Linked DNA regions of Homo sapiens: region 1 is linked to region 2. The links come from fine-mapping of genetic effects on gene expression. A gene starts in region 2. The other region holds a variant in brackets. All regions are shown on one strand. Distances are from middle to middle. Region 1 has its middle 31 kb from the start of LRFN5-DT. Region 2 holds the start of LRFN5-DT (LRFN5 divergent transcript).

Evidence for each region. PIP is the estimated chance that this variant, and not a neighbour inherited with it, causes the effect.
Region 1: its variant is the best candidate, but not a certain one, in a credible set for the expression of LRFN5-DT in sigmoid colon (GTEx, PIP 0.67).

The regions. Positions count from the first base shown.
Region 1 is chr14:41,559,893-41,565,287 of GRCh38, reverse strand. No RefSeq gene overlaps it. Among named protein-coding and RNA genes, the nearest start is that of LRFN5-DT, 31 kb to the left of the region's middle. The variant T/C (reference allele first, on the strand shown) is at 2,204.
Region 2 is chr14:41,591,137-41,596,531 of GRCh38, reverse strand. It overlaps LRFN5-DT (LRFN5 divergent transcript), which reads left to right and starts at 3,194. Exons shown (of 2, transcript XR_001750740.3): 1 at 3,194-5,395. LOC124900349 (small nucleolar RNA SNORA31) reads right to left here and starts at 2,070; the gene lies at 1,941-2,070.

The sequences.
Region 1 (5,395 bases), 31 kb after region 2:
TAGAGTTTTCCCTCATTTACTGTTTACCTCTTCCTTTTGTAGTTCCGTGACTATTTGCTCCTCAGCAATCTGAGAACCTGCTGTTCATTAGGCATCTCTTACAATTTCAGTCAAATTTCTTGTGGCCTCTTCAGTGTAGGGTCCCTCTTCAGTGTAGAGTCCCACATCTTTGTGCTTCTTGAGTCGTTTCGTAGCTTGTGTATCATGATTCCTTAAGAGTTTTAAGTTACCTGTTTTATATTTGCCAAAAGATATGGTTTAGATCCTTGCTGACTAGATTCCTAGGGCATAATTCTGGCTTTAATTGCAATTTCATGCAGTACATGGATGTAGATATTTGCTCTATATTGTACACACAGACCTCCTTCAAGGACTGAAAAATCTTAAGTCTCTAGGGGCAGTCTTGATTGTTGTAAGAGGGTGATGACCAGAGCTTGAATCAGTTGTATTATCAGAGAAAGAATGCTATAGCTTAAAGGAAAACATATATAATTGAGGTTTTTTTTTAATGATTTTATTGTTTAGGGTTTAGAAAGAGAATACTTGGCTGGGCACGGTGGCTCACACCTATAATCCCAGCACTTTGAGAGGCCAAGGTGGATGGATCACTTAAGGTCAGTAGTTCAAGACCAGCCTGGCCAACATAGTCAAACCCCATCTCTACTAAAAATACAAAAATTAGCCGGGCGTATTGGTGAGCCTGTAATCAATCCTAGCTACTTGGGAGGCTGAGGTGGAAGGATCGCTGGAACCCTGGAGGCAGAGGTTGCAGTGAGCTGAGATTGCGCCACTGCATTCCAGCCTGGGCAACAGAGCAAGACTCTGTCTAAAAAAAAAAAAAAAAAAAGAAAAAGAATACTTGATCATAATAGCACATAGAACATGTGTTTTATTAATTTATCAACTTTTAATTTGAGATTTAAAAATTTACCCTATAGCTAAACTGGTCTCCTAGGAATCCTGGATAACACTATACATTGTCAGTTATGTATTTTAATTAATAATAATAATAATATATTTTCCATTTTTTTCCTGAGGGAAAAAGCTTAAAAACAATTGCAGAGATACTTGTACAATTATATTAAGGTAGGGGCCAGCCCACTCCTAAATATCCAACCAACTTCCCTATAAAGTTAAAAGGCTTGGCAAGCCTTATGATTAGTCTGTGTTTGACACAGTTGTGGCCTTAATGATAAAAATTAGAAAATATCATATAGATTGTTTGGTTTTCATAAGTATTGTCTCCAACATTAAATATTAAGGCATTGGTATTTTGTAGACTGGAGAAAAACTATAGATGAATAGCATCAGTAATTACATAATGTCTTAATATTTGTAGGCAATAGACTATCAATCTCTGATGTGCTCACCTCTTACATTAGCTGTATAGCAATTGGTAGCTGATGACACTATACATTCTACTAATGCTTTCCTATGTGGAACTCTCCAAAGACTTGCAAAGGGAAAATTCAATTATATCCGAGTCTATGAAAATGCTAAAGGGCAAATAACTTTGACAAAGATAACTTATCACAGGCAAGTGTATTTACCAGGAGGTTTATAACTATTAAATTTTATCTTTGATGATGTCTAGCATCTTACCTGTAAAACAAGATATGAGACACTCTGAAGCTGCTCAATTTTAATACTTATCACACTGCAGTGACACTTCTCCTGGGTACTCTCTAGCCTAGGCTAATGCATGCTAGATGATAAGCTTGTTAAACAGAAAAATCTTTCCTTATATAGTTCCACAAAACTAATATCAACAGCTGATCTTTACATACCACCTACTATGTTCTAGACACTATTCTAGGTGCTTTGTATAAGTTAACCTACAATCTTCTAATGCTGCTAAGGAATTTTTATTAATATTAGTATTAATCTATGTTTTACAGATGAGGAAACTAAAGCACAATTATGAAGGAACTGAATTCCCAGGAATTTGCTGAAGTCTCACAGCTGATTAAATATCTGATCCCAGTCCACATAGACTGACATCTGTGTTCTTAACCGCTGTAAAATGCAATATGTGCTTCTTAGTAGTTCACCAAGCTTTGGTTGACCTAAGATAAATTATATAGTATTTCTTGTAATTAAATTGTACAGCTTCTGGATCCAGAACAATATTTGGAATTACCACATGGAGAAACCTTCCTTTCTTTCTGATTATTCTGCAGGAGGAGAAAGTATTCACTTTTTT[T/C]CCTCTGGAAATTATAAATTTCCCTTTACATGCTTATGAAAATCTTATTCTTGACTGGCAGTTTGTAGAATCAGTTCGATATATATATATCGTAAAGACCATTATATTAATATCATAACTTGCTTTCAAATGCCTCATAATTCAACTGTGCTTACTTTTTAATGTGCCTGAAAAAAGTGTTTAAAATGCATTAGATAGCACATTTCTTTAAAGGAATTGTATGATAAATTTCTTTGCAAAACAAGAATGTCTGACATCATACTATGAACTCATTTGTGGGACTGGATAGTCAAAATTACATTTCATTAAAATGAGATAATTATTTCATTAATTGACTACAAAACATATATAAACACAAAGTCATGTTTCTATTTGTTCATTGGTGTAAAGTACATTCTTCCATTGTAATAGACACACAATAATGGGTTATGGTATCTTTTCTCTCCTCCATTAATGAAATTCAGCCAAACTTGAAGTCAGTTCTGCTATAATCTCTATTAAATAAAATACATGTCTAACATATAGTGAAGAGCTGGAAGCACATTAATTTAGAACTTGGTGGTTGGATACTTTTTTTTTTAATTCTATAATTGCTTAGGACTATACACATATTAAGATAAATAAATTTATTATTCAGTGATTTTTGTTTAGTCTGGTTTAGTCTTCTCAACAAAGGCAACATTTAAAGATTCTAATTCATTTATGGTCTAGCAGCAGTTACGAGAGAAATAAATTTCATGTTTCTATTTACTATTATTTAATGTGAAAATCTTGGAAATTTTGTATTTTCCAGTGAATTAATAAAATGTTTTAAAATTCTACTTCTAGCATAGTGTGTTATGAAATGTGTACATCCTTGTAAAATAATAAAACAACATTTCAATAAATATCTATTTAGTGTCTGAAATATGACCAATGTTGCTTGTGAAATTTTACTTACAATATTTTATTCTTATATTTATTGAAATTTTATAATGCTAATGTTTCTACAGATCAGAATTGCACTTTCAAGGCCTTGCTTATATTCAATAAATGTAACATTTAAATTTTCACAGGTACCTTTACCTCCATATGCAGGTGCAGTTCTCAGGAATTCCACTTCGAAGCACATTACTACAAGACTGGCTATAAAAGATCCTTTAGCTTCTCACACCTGGGCATCTGCCTTATCCCCATTGCTTGTATTCTTGTATTGGTAACATTTTCAGACAGAACATTACGCTTTCTAAGAATACTGTCTACCTTGATTTTGGCAATCTTTCCTCTTCGATATAGTATAGCATAGTATAGTGCGGTACCAAAGAGAGAAGATTCTGGGATTGATCAGCCTGAATTCAAATTTAGAGAGTGGAATGATAATAGTAAAAAATGGAGACTAGCAAGGGGAATGGAGACTAAAGTGAAAGAGGATGGATGATAAAAAATTACTTAATGGGTACAATGTGTGTTATTCAGGTGATGGATACCTTAAAGCCTTGATTTGACTGCTCAGCAATCTATACATACAACAAAATTAGGCTGTACCACATAATTTTTTTGCCAAAAAAATTAATCTGCTTTACCACCAAGCATGCATGTGATCCAGGGCAAACCCCTCAGTCTCTCAATCTCTTGCATGCTCTATAGGCAAATGGTTTTTGGTCTGAGTGGCTGTCATATCTTCCAATATGAATTTCTGCATAAACGCATTTTTTCCTTCATGAGTTTGATTAACATTGGTTCTTAAAACGGAGGAATAATTTTTGTTACATTAAAATTTTGGTTTCATGAAAAATTATGATTATACATTTTGTAGCACATTACCATTTACCAAACTAAATGTTGGTTTGAATGTACCGTGCACCAAAGTTTTCCATCTCTTTCCTTTTAATTATTCTGTAACATCAGATTTATGTGGTCTAATTGTTGCACCTTTTTGTGCAAAACTATGTTTATAATCACTGAGTCAGTTTTTTCTTTCACTCATTTAAAATCTCTCATTCTTGTAGGTATACTCAAAAAAGATGTTATATACAAGAATGTTTATTGTGGTTTTATAAAAATAGCAAACAACTTTAATATTTACCAGTATGAAGCTGGTTGAATGCAATATTATAAATATATTCAGTTAAATACTCCTTAACTTTTTAAAATAGTGTGCTAATAATACTAAGGGATATCCAGGATATTGTAAATAAAAAAGCAGAACTCTAATCATTACACAAGGAGTGTCAAAACCATTAGCAGGGATTAATTCTGAGACTAGGCTCAGGATACTTTTAGTTTTCACTTCATGCCCCTACACCTTTTAATAAACAAGGTCAATTAAGTAGTTCTAATACAAAGCAGATTCATTATTTCAATTACATGTTCTTACAAATGATATTTTTCTTATTACAGACAGAGAAAAAATAAAATGTAAAGAATTGATTAAATTTACTGTTGCCAAGGATTATGGGCACTCCATTTCTTGTTAGTGAGCAATAAAGCTTATCCATTTTTAAACAGTAATTTGGCAATTTCTACGTCAATTTAAAATATGCATGACACTTGAACCTAGAAAGTTTATACCTCAAAATCTTGAAGAAATTCTTATAAGATTGCACAAACATATGCATGGAGTTATGCATACATTTTTCAAGGGCACTTTGTTTCTTAAAGGCTAGAATTTGGCTTTATCAATTATAAAAAAGAAAAATTTAAAATAGTCTAAAGTTCAGTTAAAGAGCTCAGATTAGGTAAATTATAGCACATAATATGACAAATACAATGTGAGAAAACAGCTAACAATACACCTGGTAGATTTGAACACAATACCCTAGAATAAAGTCTGCAATACAGTGCCATGTGAAGAAAGCAAATGGAACCCAGCTTAGTAGAAACAATTAAGGAATAGGTATGTATTGAAAATGCTATGGAATTGTATTAAAATAAAGGCATGACTGACTCTGAGGCCTGATACGACATGGATAAGTATGTTAACTTTCCACCAAAATATTATTGAATGTCTTCCAGTGAGTTCCTTGCATTGCTTTAAAATTAAAAGTGTTTTTGACACACAACATTTTTTTCTCCCTGTGTCTGTATTTCCATCATCATCACCCTGTCCTATATCTAGTCACCCTGATCTGGGTTATAGGAGCAAATAATCTGGAGTTAAAGAACTCTAGGTTAACCTTATCTATATACCCTTCTGAGACTTGACATGTCTTG
Region 2 (5,395 bases):
AGTCTCTAAGTATGGGATAGCCTTGCAGGAACAGTCACGGAACAGTGGCACCGCTGGAGCTGTAACACTGCCTCCTCAATAAAGCTGTTTTCTTCTCCCTCTGGCTTGCCCTTGAATTCTTTCCTGGGCAAAGCCAAGAACCCTGGCTGGCTTAGCCCCACTTCAGGGCTTGCCTGCCCTTCATCAGAATGACTCTTCTTAGAATTGCAGAATTAGAAGAGTACCTCTTTGAATAGTTAGGAAAGAAGCTTCTGGAAAATGTTGCACAGAACACTACAGTGTAAGTTGAAACTTACAGTGAAACTTTAAATGTAAAGAAGAAAAACAATATGTGTAGAGTGGCCATGGCTACACTAGTTTATGTAAATGTGAAAACATTCTTCTTGTAAAAATATGCAAGGTGATTTTATAATTATAGAGCAAATGTTTAGTTCAAGTGGCAACTACTCTTTGAAAGCTAATATTGCTTTCCCTGAAAATATTTTTCTGTTTTTTGAAATGTATAAAGTCTTGGACACTTTCTTGATTGTAAACTCTCTCCCACTGGGGCTGATTTGCTTTTTTTTTTTTTTTTTTTTTTTGAGACGGAGCCTTGCTCTGTTGCCCAGGCTGGAGTGCAGTGGTGCGATCTCAGCTCACTGCAAGCTCCGCCTCCTGGGTTCACGCCATTTTCCTGCCTCAGCCTCCCAAGTAGCTGGGACTACAGGCACCGGCCACCACGCCTGGTTAACTTTTTGTGTTCTTAGTAGAGACGGGGTTTCACCGTGTTAGCCAGGATGGTCTCAATCTCCTGACCTCGTGATCTGCCCTCCTTGGTCTCCCAAAGTGCTGGGATTACAGGCGTGAGTCACCGCGCCCAGTCTTTTATTTTTATTTATTTATTTATTTTGCCTTAGTGCAATGCATCTACGCCATGGTATACACTAAGAAGTGAAAGCTCAGATTGAAAGGCAACATTGATGAGTGCAACCCATTAAAAAAAAAAACAGATTTGAACAAAGTTGTTGAACTTTGGAAAAGAAAATGAGTGAATATCATCCGCAAGGTACTGAAGTGTGTCTGTAGTTTCAGCTATAACCCAGTCTGCAAATTCAGAGTCTCACATTCTATGTAGATCACATTTGTATAAGGTGGTAAGTTTTTTTAAATGTAGTCAGTACAAAGAATCCTTAAATTTATGTTTTGTCTTTTCAAATTTATTATTTATTATTTCATCTCTTAAGTGTTGCAATGCATAAGATAGTGTGCCAGGCTTTTTTTTTTAACCATTGGTTTTGTGATAATCAAACACCTGCCTAAATCTCTCCTCTTTGATTTTAATATTAACTAGAGCCATATGTTTATATACATAAAATTTACATGGAACATATTGTTCAATAGGGGTAGATCATATTTTAAAATATGTTTTTGTTTTATTTGTCCTAAGCTAATAACTGTAAAATAAGTGAAACAAAATACCTGACTTTAAGAAACTGCAATCCAAGACAATCAGAAGTCTTTTAAATTTAGCAATCATGATAAAAAGGCAACTGATTATTCCCTGTTCTGATTCTGGTAGTGGTTCTTTTTCAGGCTTCATAAGCATGAACTAATGATGAAACAATCTTGATACACAATCTATTAAGCTTAACTCCAACTGAATAAGTACTTTATCAAATCTGACATTTAATTGTACTATATCTCTGATTTAGTCAAAATTATAATGACATAATTCACATTTACTATTAATTTAACATATAGCCCCTGTGATTTATATTTATGTTACTATAATCAAAATGTTTTGTTGGTATTTACAGCCTAAGAAGATGAAAAGTACTTTATAAATATATTTTTAATTCAAATTTTAGATTACTTTATTGGAATAAAACAAAATATTTGCTGTTTACAAGATTATTTCTGTGTCATGAACATTATCTCCCTCCCAGCCATGTTTCTGGAATTACTGTCCTACCTGATTTAATCTTAGCTGTCACAATCAGACAGACAGAAAGTGTGGGACACTTTTCTTGCATCTGTAGTGGAAACTTTAACAGCATCCAGTAACTGCTGCAGGTCTGTCAGATAAATAAATACATGATTAATTGCATTTTTTTATTTATGCTTATACAAAAAGTAATATATGCCTTTAAACATTAATATGAATGCATGCAGGTCAGTAATAATTACAAATTAGTCCATTTATTCATATTTGGAAATGCTTGAATTTCCCAAGAATAAAAATTTAAAGTTAAAAAGGAATTTTTAGATCAGGTATTTCAACTGCTATTTTTAAGCTTAGTAAAACAAAAACAAAACAAAACAAAACTGATGCCCAAAGACTGTAAGCTTGGAGAGAAGTAGAGAAACGAATGAATCACAACTAGACTATCCTGACTCCTTCTCTTAGCTCTCCAAAGCATATTAATGAGATTCCTTGTTGTGATGAACAGAGATTCACCCACATTTAGAGAAAAGAAGTTTGTTTTAAAAATACTTATGGAATTTGAGTAGGAAAAGATAAATTACAGTTCTAAGTAAACATAGTAATATGTGTCACAATTTGAAGTGCTGTGAAGAGAATCATTAATCTAAACAGGACAGAATTTATGAGTTTCTTCACAATTAAATCAGGTGCAGTAAGAATTATAATAATTTTTCAATTGTATTCTGTCTTGAAGAGGAAGTGAATTGGATTATGGATTAAAACATAGGCCAGTGGATATTCATTAGGCTCCTGAAACCTAGCTGTACCTTGCATTAAACCTATAATTTTCTGAGTATAGGCAGATCATAATAAGCAAATCAATGCTAGATAAATAATGAAGTGTTCTTTTCCATCAACAATGACCTCATATTCTGGAATGAAAAAAAGAAAGACATAAGTAAATGAGATAGAGTAGAATAAATGGGTATGTGTGTGTCAGTGTGAGTGTGTGAGTGTGTTTGTGTATTACAAAAAAAGGAAGTAATAAACTATGTGGCAGATCAGGGAAGGTTTGCAAAAGTGGACACTTCAGTTGGGTCTGAAAATATAAGTAGGGATGACCCACACAGTGAGGTAGAAAAGGGTATTTTAGGCAGCAAGAATGACATGAACCAAATAGAAAGGTACAAGGCAGTAGGCACACAGGATAATGTGAGGTTAGGCTCTGTTGTGTTTTTGTTTGTTTGTTTTTTCTTTTTTAACTTTGATTTTAAGTTCTGGGATGCATGTGCAGGTGTGTTACATAGGTAAACTTATGTCATGGGGGTTTGTTTTACAGACTATTTCATCACCCAGGCATTAAGCCTACTACCCTTTAGTTATTTTTCCTGAACTTCTCCCTCCTCCTACCCTCCTCTCTCTGATGGGCCCAGGTGTGTGTAGTTCCCCTTTATGTGTCCATGTGTTCTCATCATTTAGCTCCCACTTATAAATGAGAACATGCAGTATTTGGTTTTCTGTTCTTGCATTAGTTTACTAAGGATAATGGCCTCCAGCTCCATCCATGTCCCAGCAAAAGACATGATCTCATTTTTTTATGGCTATGTACCATTCCATACTATATATGTACCACATTTTCTTCATCCAATCTACTGTTGGTGGACATTTAGGTTGATTCCATGCCTTTGTTATTGTGAATAGTGCTGCAATAAACATACACATGCATGTGTCTTCATAACAGAATGATTTATATTCCTTTGGGTATATACCCAATAATGGGATTGCTGGATCAAATGATATTTCTGTCTTTAGGTCTTTGAGGAATTGCTGCACTGTCTTCCACAATGTACTAATTTACACTCCCACCAGTAGTGTGTAAGCATTCCTTTTCTTCCACAACATCAACAGCATCTTTTTCTTTTTTCTTTTTGGACTCTTTAATAATAACCATTCTGACTGATGTGAGATGGTATCATTGTGGTTTTGATTTGTATTTCTCCAATGATGAATAATATTGGGCTTTTTAATCATATGATTGTGGGCCACATGTATATCTTCTCTTGAAAAGTGTCTGTTCATGTCCTTTGCTCATGTTCTGATGAGATTCCTTATTTTTTTCTTGTAAATTTGTTTAAGTTCCTTAAAGATGCTGAATATTAGACCTTTGTCAGATGCATAGTTTGCAAAAATTTTCTCCCATTCTGTAGGTTGTCTGTTTACTCTGTTGATAGTTTCTTTGTACTGTGCAGAAGCTCTGTAATTTAATAAGATCCCATTTGTCAATTTTTACTTCTATTGCAATTGCTGTTGGCATCTTCATCATAAAGTCTTTGCACATGCCTATGTCCTGAATAGTATTGCTTAGCTTGTCTTCCAGGGTTTTTATAGTTTTGGGTTTTACGGTTAAGTAATCCCTCTTGAGTTAATTTTTGCATACAGTATAAGGAAGGAGTTCAGTTTCAATCTTCTGCATATGGCTAGCCAGTTATCCCAGCACTGTTTATCTAATAGGGAATCCTTTCCTCATTGCTTGTTTTTGTCAGGTTTGTTGAAGATCAGATAGTTGTAGCATGCAGCCTTATTTTTGGGGTCTCCATTCTGTTCCATTGGTCTATGTGTCCTTCTGTACCAGTACCATGGTATTTTGTTTACTGTAGCCTTGGACTACAGCTTGAAGTTGAGTAGCATGATGTCTCCAGCTTGTTATTTTTGCTTAGAACTGCCTTGGCTATTCAGGCTCTTTTTTGATTCCATATGAATTTTAAAATAATATTTTCTAGTTCTTTGAAAAATCCCAATGGTAGTTTAATAGGAACAGCACTGAATCTATACATTTCTTTTAACAATATTGATTCTTCCTACTCAATAGCATGAAGTGTTTTTCCATTTGTTTGTGTCATCTCTGATTGCTCTGAGCAGTGTTTTGTAGTTCTCCTTGTAGAGGTCTTTCACCTTCCCTAGTTAGCTATATTCCTAGGTGTTTTATTCTTTTTGTAGCAATTGTGAATGGGAGTACGCTCCTGATTTGGCTCTCAGCTTTACTGTTGGTGTATAGGAATGCTAGTGATTTTTGCTTATTGATTTTGTATCTTGAGACTTTGTCGAGATTGTTTATCAGCTTAAGAAGCTATTGGGCTGAGGCTATGGGGTTTTGTAGATATAGGATCATGGCGTCTGCAAAAAGAGATAGTTTGATTTCCTATTTGGATGCCCTTTATTTCTTTCTTTTGCCTGATTGCCCTGGTCAGGAATTCCAAAACTATGTTGGTTTTTTTGTTTTGTTTTGTTTTGTTTTACTTTTTAACATTTATTTTAAGTTCAGGGGACATGTGCAGGTTTGTTACATAGGTAAACTTGTCATGGGGGTTTGTTGTACAGATTATTTCATCACCCAAGTATTAAGCTTGGTACTCCTTAGTTATTTTTCCTGATCCTCTGATACTGATCCTCCTCCCACTTTCTACCCTCCAAAAGGCCCTAGTGTGTGTTGTT